4 separate regions of the Homo sapiens genome follow, and all the other regions are reported to be linked to region 1. The links are microRNA targets in miRTarBase. Many come from high-throughput screens and were not tested one by one. Region 1 holds a microRNA gene; each other region holds the end of a gene's coding sequence.

What was found. Region 1 holds the annotated microRNA hsa-miR-548ay-5p (AAAAGUAAUUGUGGUUUUUGC, at 1,486-1,506, opposite strand). A microRNA usually pairs through its seed, bases 2 to 8, with sites in the 3' UTR of a target mRNA and lowers its output. Matches are read on the target gene's strand: a 7mer-m8 pairs with bases 2 to 8, a 7mer-A1 pairs with bases 2 to 7 and ends in A, and an 8mer does both.
Region 2: the mRNA of PRPS1 is a reported target of hsa-miR-548ay-5p. The part of its 3' UTR that is shown has no 7-base or 8-base seed match.
Region 3: miRTarBase lists PCMTD1 as a target of hsa-miR-548ay-5p. Seed matches in the 3' UTR shown: 7mer-m8 at 2,414-2,420.
Region 4: the mRNA of RSBN1 is a reported target of hsa-miR-548ay-5p. Seed matches in the 3' UTR shown: 7mer-m8 at 1,695-1,701.

The regions. Positions count from the first base shown.
Region 1 is chr3:32,504,857-32,508,041 of GRCh38, forward strand. It overlaps MIR548AY (microRNA 548ay), which reads right to left and starts at 1,533; the gene lies at 1,427-1,533. It also overlaps the pseudogene RPL31P18.
Region 2 is chrX:107,649,786-107,652,970 of GRCh38, reverse strand. It overlaps PRPS1 (phosphoribosyl pyrophosphate synthetase 1), which reads right to left. Exons shown (of 7, transcript NM_002764.4): 7 at 1,945-3,031. The coding sequence ends at 2,939. Among named protein-coding and RNA genes, the nearest start is that of PRPS1, 23 kb to the right of the region's middle.
Region 3 is chr8:51,817,480-51,820,664 of GRCh38, forward strand. PCMTD1 (protein-L-isoaspartate (D-aspartate) O-methyltransferase domain containing 1) reads right to left here. Exons shown (of 6, transcript NM_052937.4): 6 at 104-3,185. The coding sequence ends at 2,872. Among named protein-coding and RNA genes, the nearest start is that of PXDNL, 9.6 kb to the left of the region's middle.
Region 4 is chr1:113,763,010-113,766,194 of GRCh38, reverse strand. RSBN1 (round spermatid basic protein 1) reads left to right here. Exons shown (of 7, transcript NM_018364.5): 7 at 1-3,185. The coding sequence ends at 215. Among named protein-coding and RNA genes, the nearest start is that of PHTF1, 5.1 kb to the right of the region's middle.

The DNA of each region.
Region 1 (3,185 bases):
AAATACAAAAAATTAGCCGGGCGTGGTGGCGGGCGCCTGTAGTCCCAGCTACTCGGGAGGCTGAGGCAGGAGAATGGCGTGAACCTGGGAGGCGGAGCTTGCAGTGAGCCGAGATCACACCATTGCACTCCAGCCTGGGCGACAGACCGAGACTCCGTCTCAAAAAAAAAAATCATTGTTAAAAAAACAACAACAACAAGGATCTCTAATAAAGCAACTGCAGTAACATATTAATGGTAATATTTAGGTGAAGTATACGGGTGTCCACTGTACAATTATTTCAGCATTTCTGTATGTTTGAACATTTTCAAAATAAAGTATTGGGAGGAAGTTACAAAGAAACAAGGATACTTTGAGACAAGAGAGAAGATGAACAGACTTCGTCAACCCTCTTGGTTTGTTTAGGGCACACTTATGCAATTCTCTAGGGGTCTCTGCTTCTCTTTGCATTTTTAGAAGAAGACACAAATTTAGCCTGTGATTCATAAACTCCAACATGGCGAAGAATCATCTGTGAGATTAATTAAAAAGGAAGATTCTTGGAGATCTAGCCCCAAAGATTCTGAATGTAGATGGGGCTTGGGAATATACTTTCGTAACAAGCTCTTCATGTGAATCTGGGAAGAAATCCATCCACATAGAGAAACACTGTTTTATAATGTGATAAAAGTGAAAGCCATTGTGTAGTAGACAGTAGACGTGCCATATTTTCTTTGCTCTGATTGATTTGGGGGTGCCTGGGATTTAGAGACTAATATTTCACCCAGGTAAAGAAATGGGCATCCCTTACATTTTCTTCATAAATTGAAAGACCAAATAAAAATGTTAGTGCTTCATGAGCAAATACTTGTATAGGAAACTCTTTTGATGGGCATATTCACACAGAAAACTGTCACCCTCATTAATGAATAAAACAACTTGCAATAGTCAAATGGTGGGACTCACTATGTTGAAATGAGAAATCTTACGTATGGTGAAAAAAATACGACAAAAAGAAGAAAGGAAGATACACTAAATTTAGGTTTTAAAGAATATTCACTGTTCTCCTTTAAAATTAGATATTTAATTTTTTAAAAAAAGAAAGAAAAACATTCACAAGAAGAGAGAGCGATTGGGGAACATAATTTGATGGGACTTCAGCCATTCAAAAAATAATGTGGTAGTGTTGGAGGCTGTTGCAAGACCTTGGTTCTTGTCTTCTTAGTTTAAAAGAATTTAAACAAGAGACATACAGCAAAAGAGATGCAGCATAATTTATTGCAAAAGAAAAAAAAATTTTGAAAGCTAAGTACAAAATAGACATCACACCCTGAGAGAGAGAGAGAATTCAGGGCAGGCTGCTCGTAAGGATGAGACAACATTGATTATTGCTGGAGGTTATTGCTAATCATGTATTATTTGCATGATTATTCATAAGGAGGTGGGAAGAAGTGTTACCGTTAGGTTCGTGCAAGAGTAATCGCGGTTTTGGCCATTACTTTAAATGCAAAAACCACAATTACTTTTGCACCAACCTAGTAGTAAGCATCTTCTGGTTGGTCCTCTGGCTGCACATGTGCAGTAGCTGTGCACCCATGTTCCTCCCTCAGGTGTCCCATTAGCATTGTAAATCTCCACCCAAGGGCATGTTTTTTGCTATTATAATGAGCAAAAGGTCAGTTTGAGGACAGGTAAAATCAAAGTGCTCATGCTCTCTATAGAAGAAATTTCCTACTGAAGATAGCTTTGCTCGACTGAGTTCAATCACAATTCAAATGCTGAGGCTTATTGTGTTGACTGTTGGGGTCACCATGGTTGCTGCGTCCTGAGGATATGGGCACTTCCTTGACTGCCTATCCTGCCTCAGTACTACTTTTTCAGTTCAGAGTTTAATTTTTTTCAGCAGTTCCTGCTAAACAATTTTTCACTGGCCCTCTTATCGGTATTAGCACAGTTAGGCAATACTGTGGATACAAAGTTAGATTATAGACGCTATCCTACAATGATACCACAGTAATGTCCACAAAGAACTATGTTACAAAATAGAAAGAGATATGTGTTATAGAAGAGATACAAATTAAATATGTTGCTAATTCGGAGCAGAGAGAAATAACTTTCAGTTTAAAGGATCACTACAGTGGAGCTTCAAGATGGGGTTAAACTATACTTCGGTTTGGACATGCAGATACAGGGCAGAAAGTATTCAGGCAGTAGGGTGGTATGAAGGAAGGCAAAGAAAGTGTGCATAGGCACAGTGAATGAAGGGAGCAGGAAAGGACAGAGTAGTTAAGGAATATAAGCTCGAGATCAAATTTTGGAAGGCTTTGAAAATCAAGCTAAGGAACTGGGCCTTTCCATTATTGTTGGGTAATGAAGAACCCCCAACGAGTTTTAGGAAGGGGAGTGAAATGATCGGAGCTTTTCCTTGGGGATATTTTTCTAGTAGCCTTGAGCGCAGTGGTTACAGAGATCCAAGTAAGGGCTATTGTAAAAGTTCAGGAGAGAGGGAATAGAAGCTTAAACTCTGACGTTAATCATGGGGATGGCACCAAGAGAACCTTGGAGGTAAAACCAGTGAGATTTGAGGACTGATTTGTTTAGAGAGTAAGAAAGGAACTGGAGCAGGTGCCAATATTTCAAGTCTGGGTAACAAGGAGATTGAGGGAGAATAATAACAGAGAGGTAATATAGGAGGCAGTAACTCTTATTGATGTCAAAGTACAAATTTCAAAAAATTAAAAAGATAACTTTCATACAAGCATATAGTAAGCCTGCTTCAAAGATTTATCTAATTTATTAATAGGCTGGGCTCATGCCTGTAATCCAGGCAGGAGGATTCCTTGTGTCCAGGAGTTCGAGACCAGACTAGACCCCATCTCTAAAAAAAAAAAAAGAAAGAAAGAAAAAAAAATTAGCTGAGTGTGGAGGCATATGCCTGTAGTCCCAGCTACTTGGGAGGTTGAGGTAGAAGGATCGCTTGAGCCCGGGAAGTTGAGGCTACAGTGAGCCTTGATTGTGCCATTGTGCCACTGCACTTCAGCCCAGGTGACAGAGTGAGACCTTGTCTTAAAAAAATAAAATAAAATAAAATATTGCCTTTCCAACTTGGACCCAACAGAATGGCTTCCGCAAAGAAGGGTGGCCAAAAGAAAAAGGGCCGTTCTGCTATCAACGAGGTGGTGACCCAAGAATACACCATCAACATT
Region 2 (3,185 bases), not on the chromosome of region 1:
CGGGTGGATCACCTGAGGTCGAGAGTCCGAGACCAGCCTGGACAACATGGTAAAACACCATCTCTACTAAAAATACAAAAATTAGCCAGCTACTTGGGAGGCTGAGGCAGGAAAATCACATGAATCCGGGAGGCGGAGGTTGCAGTAAGCCGAGATCGTGCCACTGCACTCCAGCCTGAGCAACAGAGCGATGCTCTGTCTCAAAAAACAAAAACAACAAAAACAAAAAACAACTGCTTTGAAAGGGATCAAAGTTGGGGACTGGGCCTTTTTTGAATAATCTCAAAACCTCATCCTAGGAAATGAATTACCCAAAGGGGCCCACAAGAGAGATCTTAATGTCAAAATATTCTGTAACAATGAGACCTGACCCACTGATCCAATACTTTAGGAAATAGCATGATGAGCAAGTGAAGGCATTGGTGCTTCACATCAGCTTCTCCCAGAGCAAAAATCTGAGATTAAAGAGGTCTAGAGGGTTAGAGGCGCACATTTCATAGTATACTTTAGTCCCTCCTGAATCACTTTTATCAAAGAGCTAGCTGTAAAATAGATATCCCGATATCCAACAAAAGCAAAAACAAAATAAACAAAAGTAGACCTGGGCTTCACAAATAAGGAAGCACTCTTCATGAAGCTCTGTAGCCATGTAGCTTCCCAAAGTAAAAGAGCACCCTTATTTGATGATGGGCCAAGAAACTCACTCACTTAAGGCCGCCATGGTGGCTCATGCCTGTAATCCGAGCACTCTGTGAGGCCAAGGTGGGCGGATCACTTGAGGCCAGGAGTTTGAGACCAGACTGAGCAACATGGCAAAACCCTGTCTCTACTAAAAATACAAAAATTAGCTAGGTGTGATGGTGCACACCTGTAATCCCAGATAACCTGTAATCCCTCTCGAGGCTGAGGCAGGAGAATCACTTGAATCCAGGAGGTGGAGGTTGCAGTGAGCCAAGATCGAGCCACTGCACTCCAGCCTGGGTGACAGAGCAAGAGAAAGATGAAAGACAGAAAGAAAGACAGACAGACAGACAGAGAGAGAAAGAGAAGGAAGGAAAGAAAAGAAAGAAATGAAGAAAGAGAGAGCTAAAGGGAAAGAAAGAAAGAGAAAAAAAAGGAAAGAAAGAAGGAAACTTAAAATTTTGGAATGCATAATAATTCATCCTTAAATTTTGCACATTTACCTTCTCAAAATAGTTCTTATTTAGCAGGGATGAAAGTAAATGCCCAGCCGGGCACCAGTGGCTCACACCTGTAATCCCAGCACTTTGGGAGGCTGAGGCGGGCAGATCACCTGAGGTCAGGAGTTCAAGACCAGCCTGACCAACATGGTGAAACCCTGTCTCTACTAAAAATATAAAATTAGCTGGGCATGGTGGCACATGCCTATAAATTCTAGCTACTCAGGAGGCTGAGCAGGAGAATTGCTTGAACCCGGGAGGCGGAGGTTGCAGTGAGCCAAGATTGCACCATTGCACTCCAGCCTGGGCAACAAGAGCGAAACTCCATCTCAAAAAAAAACCAAAAAATCAAAAAAAACAAAGAAAGTAAATGCCAAACGTATGTCAATTACTGATGAATGGAAGGAAATTATCACATTTGGCAAAATTAGTTCAAAATGAATAAATCACAGAAATTCTCCTCCCATAAGAAAATACCTAATTTGGATCTTCAGGAGTAAGAACCAGAGATCCACCAGACATTATACATGCTATAATTTAGGTATACTGCACAGAATTACACTCTTATCACATTCTCAGTAAACTCCAGACATCTTAGTCTTACAGTTGAATAAAACTGCTGCCAATGTCTTCTCTTGGTTTAACAATGAAGCTAACGTAGTTTGGAAACAAATAAGAGCTATCAATGGACAGCAAGACATCTATCTAAACCAAACCTTTAGCAGAGAGATCAGTACAGATTATGTATGATACAGACCCCAAATCACACAGGTACACACACTTTATTAGTTTCCTCTACAAGAGACAATAACATCAATCTTTTTTAACAGGAATCTCAGTTCATTTGAGAGGCCAAATAGATCCAAAGAAGGAAGATGAAAATTAAATACTTAAATTAATCAAAAGGCACTACGATACCACCTAAAACCTACTGCCTCAGTGGCAGTAGGCTAAGGAAGATCAAGCTACAGCACATCATCTAATATGAATGTTAGCAATTACATAGCAGGAAGCATGTTTGCTTTCCAGAAGACTATGGTACAATGTTCATTTGGGCCCAAGAGGATATTTGGCCAGGAAAGGATCAAGATAGATGAAGGTAAAGCCAAATCGAAAGGGATAGGTACAAAGGAGAATCCAAGCTACATAGTCAAGCAGATGGTGATGGATCAGGCTTCTTCCTCCCAAGAAACATTTGCTGCACTGTGCTGCCTCCCCCCTCAACCACCCCCCACCCCCCACCCAATGTCTGCTCAAGCTGAGCTGCCTGCTCCTGCCTTACAGGGTGCTCAGCTACCAGGACTAGGTTTGGGGTTGCCCAGGGCTCTTGCTATAATTTAGCATAGACCTTGGGGAGAACTGGTCACACATGGGTTGCCTTTGTTGCTAGTTGTTCTCAACAAAGAAAACCCTGAAGCATTCACATACAAAGTAGTCTGAGCTTCCCCAGTCACAGTCAAACACCCTCACACAACATCCTCAAAAGTCTGAAATCTTGCAGCAGCTGAGCTATAGTTAAAGCTGCAAGGCCCACAGAATTATCAAGGAAGCCAGAATGAGATAATGCAGGTAGGAGGTCCCAGCAGTTAATCTCAATCCGTCTTTCCCCAGTTCGGATAAGCTCTAATATACCTGATGTGGGATGTAGAAAGCTACACTGGAGCAAGCCGGGTCTTCTGCTGAATTTGTCATCAAATACCAAGGGGAAACAAGGGTGGGGTGGATTTTATTCTCAAAAAGCCTCAGAAGTTACTCTATTATAAAGGGACATGGCTGAATAGGTAAGAAACGGATTCTCCATTGTGAGTTCTCCTGATGGCTTCTGCAAGGATCATAGAGATGTCAATCACCTAGAAAGGCAAGAAAGGAAATCAGGTTACTATCATATGGTCAGAGATGACTGGCCAATTTGCAGACACTGATGAGCAGCCAGGCAAGTGCCCTTCCTCTTAAAACTGCAACACTGTGCTGTTTCCCTGTCATGAGGCTGCACTCAGCTATTCT
Region 3 (3,185 bases), not on the chromosome of region 1:
ACAATTGTATGCCATAATTGAGCATATCCATAGGTGTACTGAGATTGCCTAAATTTAAAAAGAAGAAGACAAACATAAAAGTCAGGCCATGGGAGAAAAATGCTTAATTACATGTAATTGTTTATTTAAAATAATTTTCCAAGTCTTCCAATGATTTAACAGGCTTTGCTTCACTTTTATCATCTCAAACAGCTATAAATCAACACACTTTTTGTATTTTATTTTACTACTATGTATGCTATTTTAATAACATTTTTCTTTATTAATACTAGAACCAAATATATTGACCAATAAGCAGTATAGATTTAAATTATCTTCTTGGGTTGGTCTGAGGTTGCTGATGGATTCTTGGGATTGATCTGATGCTAGAAGCTATCTTAGGCCCTGTCTCTAACTCACTGTATGTTTCAGGCAAAACATGCCACGGTTCTAGGTCTGTTTTCTCATCTGCAAAATAAACACCCAAATTAGATGATACTTACTGTTTTAACTAGCTATAAAATTCCAATACTATATTCCCCATCATTTTCACTTACTTTTACTTAATCTTTATTTGCTACTTTTCCACCTATAAAGCGTAATTTTCCATATCAAGTAAACATAAATTCATTAAAAAATAAACACAAACCCAAAATATTCTTATTCTAATATATCTGCATTAATAGATAAAAAGGCTTTAGCTTTAATTTTCATTTTTCATTTCTACCTCTTAAAGTCAATGATAAACTCACAAGTGTAAAATGAATGCATTTAAAAACATAAAAGATACATTTCAATGACAAGAAATATGCAATGATCATGAAAATCTACTGTACACTTTGCCATGGTCAAAGAATGAAGGACAATATGGAAAAGCCAATCTTCAAATATATCCTTAACAAAAACTCTCTCCTGCATAGTAAAAGCATCATCTAAACAGCAGCTCCAACCAAAAAAAAAAAAAAAAACAAGCAGGGGAGATGGGACAGATAACTTTCTCCAGGTTTTCCAGATAAAAACATGTGGTCACCAGGAATTCAAGGTAACTAGGTACTTCAAAAGCCACATTTAATTCAAAATAAAATGAGCATTTCTGACAGATGACAACAGTATGAAACTGATTTTTTTCTTTCCTAGATACAAAAATGATATGGGGCATTTCTTAACAGTTTAGTAATCGTCTAAGAATAATTGTAGAAATAACCCCAATTCCACCATCCCAGCCACTGGTATAAAACAAATACCTTCCATGAAACTGTCTTTCACATAACTAAAATATCCTCACTTACTTGGAACAATTTCATGCTTACACATGATCACAAACATTTGTTTTTAGATGTTGTGGAATTACTGGAGCTGAGATTTCTGAAACAATATCTGAATCTTAGCAGAGAGATAATAATCCTTTCACTATACATTGCTTGGGCTTCCTTAACCAAATCTGAGTAACTACTGTAATAATAATGCTGGTGGTAGTCCATGATACTCTCAAATTTTTCCCTTTAAGAAATATATAATCCATGTAACTCTAGCAAATATGTTACATTGTACACTTTCTTAACAAGGAATGGCTGTTTTCAGGCCTTATTAGGAAAACAAACAAACAATGGCAGTTACTACCTGTTTTTTATCACTGATAAGCTAAAATAAAGCTCAAATATGGACAGTTTAACTGTGTGATATTAAGTAAAAAATGAAAACCATTATAGTTTTACCAAAAGAAACACAAAAAATATGGGAAGGAGTGAAATGAACATGGCATAGGTCCCAAAGATTACACTATGATTCTGAACAGCATTTTCAAAACAAAGGGTATCTACATACAATTTCTGTGAATATTTCTTATACTAGATAGATCAAAAGCAAATGTAGGCTCAGCCCTACCTTGTCAAAGATAAATATTCAGATAAACTAGAAGTTCCATCTGCTAAAGTGCATCCGCTGACCAGGTCTACCCTGGCCCTGCTACTTACAGCCATCCAAGAAAGTGGCCTCACTCATGCTCATTCACTCGTTCTGTGTCCTATCAAGAGTCACACATAACAATGGTTTTGCTTTTTTTAAAAAACCAAATACTTTATACAGTGAACTACAGAAAAAACAATTCTAAATATACTTTTAAAATTCTATAGAGTTAAGATAACCTCATTTTTTTAAATACTGAAAATGTAAAGGGTCCATATAAAGAGTTGTATTAAGTATAGACTTTGTTTTAATAATTCACTTGCTGTGCTCTTAAAATCTCTATGAGAGAGGCAGATATTTTACCCATGTCTTTTGGCAAGAGATTCAAAAGCAAAAGTAGCAGGGCTGTAAAATTTCATAAAATTTGTGGGATTTTTTAAAGCTAAATTATTCAATATCTTGTATTGTTATTGCACTCATATATTGCCCGGAATATATATACAGCAACCCAACAACAGTGATTGCAACAAAAGTAAGGTAAATAGTCTACAAAGCATTTGACTTCCTTATTAGATAAATGAAGTTTTCATAGAGGAAATGCAAACAACTGCAATTCAGATCAGGTTATATAAGCTTAACAATTATTTAAACCATATATAAAATTAAATCTAAACCTCATCACTACAAATCTGTAAGGAATCAGAAAAGGATTTATAGTACACAAGTCTTGACTACTGTTGCATTCCACTTTGAAATCACTCTGAGCTAAAACAACATTTTTCCAAGATTTAAAGAAAAATAGATTTTATAAAAGGGATTCTTTTATTCACTGAATACATCATTTGTGTTACTGACAGAAACAAGTGATTTTTTTTCCACTATAATTTGCTCTGATGAAAGAAATAATTCTCTCTTTTAACTCCTAACAAATGCTACATTTTCAAGACTAAAGGAATTATCAGTAGGCATTTTTCTTCTTGATCTAAGTTATTTGTCTCTAAAATATGTCAAGTAAGCTTTTAAAGATTCAGGGAGGGGCAGCTTCATGATTTTTTCTCTCAGTAAATTTTGAGGTGGCTCCTCTGGCTTCATTGCTTCATTGTGATCTTTTTCCTCCTCTTCTTTGTTATCCTCTTCCATTTTTTCATCCTCTTCACTGTCTAGAGGCTGAGGAATAAGCTGATTACCCACAAATACGTAAGTGTTAATTCTCTGTTTAACTCTCTTTCTTTTCCTTTTGGGTGGAGCCCTTTGAGGAATCCCCTTGGCCTGCATCTCATCATTTATGAAATTTCTAAGTG
Region 4 (3,185 bases), not on the chromosome of region 1:
TTGACTCCCAATGTGTGAGGATAAAAACTGAATCTGAAGAAGCATGCACAGAGATTCAGCTGTTAACAACTGCTTCATCATCTTTCCCACCTGCATCAGAACTTAATCTACAGCAAGATCAGAAGACTCAGCCTATTCCAGTTTTAAAAGTGGAAAGTAGACTGGACTCTGACCAGCAACACAATCTGCAAGAACATTCAACCACTTCTGTGTGATATGTACATATTCAAACACATTTTTTAACTTTTTTAAATTTTGATGTGAAGTTATAGTTTTATAACTGGCTTAAGTTAAGTTTTATTGGAGAAATCTTGCCTATAATTCTATAAAGAGAAATGACATTCCACAAATGTCAAGCATATCTTTTTTACACAGATTATGCAAAGTTAAGAGTTGTATCTTATCCCGTTAGTACAGTATGTAATAGTGGGTCTGCTGCTACTTTCTGTTTTAAGGTGTGAGGTAACAATTCAATCTCTTCTTCAAATCAAAATGAGAATTCTCTGGAATAACAGATTCTTGTTTGGTAAATTATTCACTTCCCTTAATTTTATCTTGCCTTGTCTCTTGCCATATTTGCTGTTTTTATGGATAAATAAGATTTATGGTTTAGTACTTGTGTCTTTATGGCACAGGTTCAATTTCTACAGTGAAAATGGCATAGGTTGCAGGAAAGAATTTCTGCATCTGGTACATGGGCAAGTAAGTTATTTAGTTCTAACCACAAATAACAAGTAGTTTCCAAGGAAATTTCAGTGGCTCTCTGGTTTCTTAACAAAAGAGAAAGCACAGCACTTTCTGATCCAAACTGTCTTTTTTTTGTATCTGTTATTTAAAGCCCAGTGGATATTTCAATTAAAAAAAAAATCTAAAGATGAATAGTCCTTGGTCATTCATTATCCATGGCTCATTAATCTCTTCTAGAATATATGCTAACTGTTGAAGATATTTTGGGTAAAAGAGATAATGTTGACATGATACTCTATTGTTCTGCTTCCTGGCATCCTCACATTTTGTGGGGATAATTTTGCTTCCTAAACTGATCACAACTATTAAACTTAGAGAATAATAATAGTCTTTCTGATGAGGCTGCCATATTTTGAGCATCAATCTTATGATAAACTATTCTTGTCACTTGGCATCAACCTCTTCATGATAAATATCTACTACTGAGACACTTCAATTCACAGTTTTAACTGGTGAATACCTGGGTTTATTTACTATTACTCTGTGTTGCTATTTTCTAAGAAAGAATACAGCACTAGACTTCATCCTAGAGTTTCAGGTAGGCTAATGCTTAGTGCCTGAGTATTTAAATTTTCTTTTCAAACAGGCACAGTTCACATTGCTAGTATGGTCCTAACTTTCTGTTATTTTAGAATGTTAACATGATTCACATTATACTTTCTCTTAGTTAATAATACAGTAGGCCTTTTGTTTATTAATGGAAGAGTACTCCCCACACCTAAGACCAGATTCTTATATCTCCCTGGTTACAGTGCAATTTGGAGATTTTTTTTTTTTCCTGGATGGTAAGATTTGAAATATTTACATTAACATAGGCAAAAAAAAAAAAAAATACAAGATGCTGCTTTATTATGTCTGTCACCATGAAAACTTAGCTGCATCTTTTGAAATATCAAATATGAATTTTCTCTAAAATATTCTGAAATAGGTTAAATCTTATATAAATATTACTTTGTGCAATATTGTTGTGTAGTTAAATGCATATTAGCAAAGTATAGAGGTCACTGTGTAAACCGATAGAAAAGTAACCATCAGCAAATACTGCAGTGATTAGTTAGAATCTGTATTATTCCTTATATATATGTATATGTATGTATTCTCTGTTACAAAGGATGAAGACAAATAGGGATACATTTCAATGTAAACCATTTATGAATTGGAAGTGATGTTGGCTTTAGTTATCTTTGTAAATAAGGTAATTAGAATGGTATGAAAGGTAATGTGATTATTGCAGGGGTGTTTTTAAATCTTGGGTATAAATTCTAGGGTAAATTCCAGTTTATCCAGACTAGTTTTTAACGGGACCTGCCTTTGAGGGTGTTTTTTGTTATTTTGTTGGGGAGGGGTTTAATCACAAAGTGTGTGGGTTTGGGTTATTTCTTGTTTTTATTTTTCTGTCCAGAAGAGCTTTACCAGGCTGTGCAAAGTAAAATTCTTCTCAGGCAACATTTGCTTTTAAAAATAATCATGAAGAGAAGGCTGTTAAAGCAAAAATTTTTTTTTTTTAATTTTTTCTTGTCTTCCAAGATCCGATTTCCCCATCTCCCACTTGCCATCCAGCAGATGCCATCTGTCATCCAAGCTGGTCATTGCTAATAAACAAGGAGACTGTCTCCTGACAGCCAGCACTGTGTATTATCACTCAGGAACCAGCGGATCTGCAAAGACCTACAATCAAAAGCAAATCCCCATTTTCCTTTTATAAAACATTCTACCCTCACCTCCAATATAAACACATTAAAAGAGTACAATAAAAATGTTTAAAATCATGTACTAATAAATTCATTGTATGTTAGAATTGCAATAGAATGAAGAGAAACATTTAGCTAGTAACGTGATCTGAAAACTGAATGTCCTATGTGAGTATTAGATTTTAATAGCATGCTTTAAAGACTGATGAGTATAAAAGCAGAAGTTTTGCGTTTTTTACTGCTTTCAAAGCTGTATCCTAGTTTAGTGATACAAATGATTGCAATTTTTCTAAATCATTAAATTATTTGGTTTGGTGGAGTGAGGCATGGAGCAATCTGGCGTCTTCTGATTTGTTAAAGTAGTGATGGCAGTGAAGTTGTAACTGAAATTTAAGCTGATCTTCCTTTTTGGTATATTATCCGTTGTGCCAGCTCTTGAGATTACTTGCACAATGTGGCTATAAGTTTTAATATTTTGTGGAGCAGAGGGATGGTTTTTAAATGTGCTTATGGAAAGGACCCAATAAATGAATATTCCTAACTTAGTAAAGTAGAATAATTTCATGGTATTCATTAAAAAGCATAAAAGTCTTCCTCTTGCCCCAGAAGTAATTCTCTATACCAAGATATGCTAGGAGTAGGATGATGATTCAAAGTGGTAACCCAAATTCATAAAGCAATAATAATAAAAACCTATATAGTATGTTCTCTCCTCCAAAGTTTTAACTCTAAAAATTGGTTCCTAGG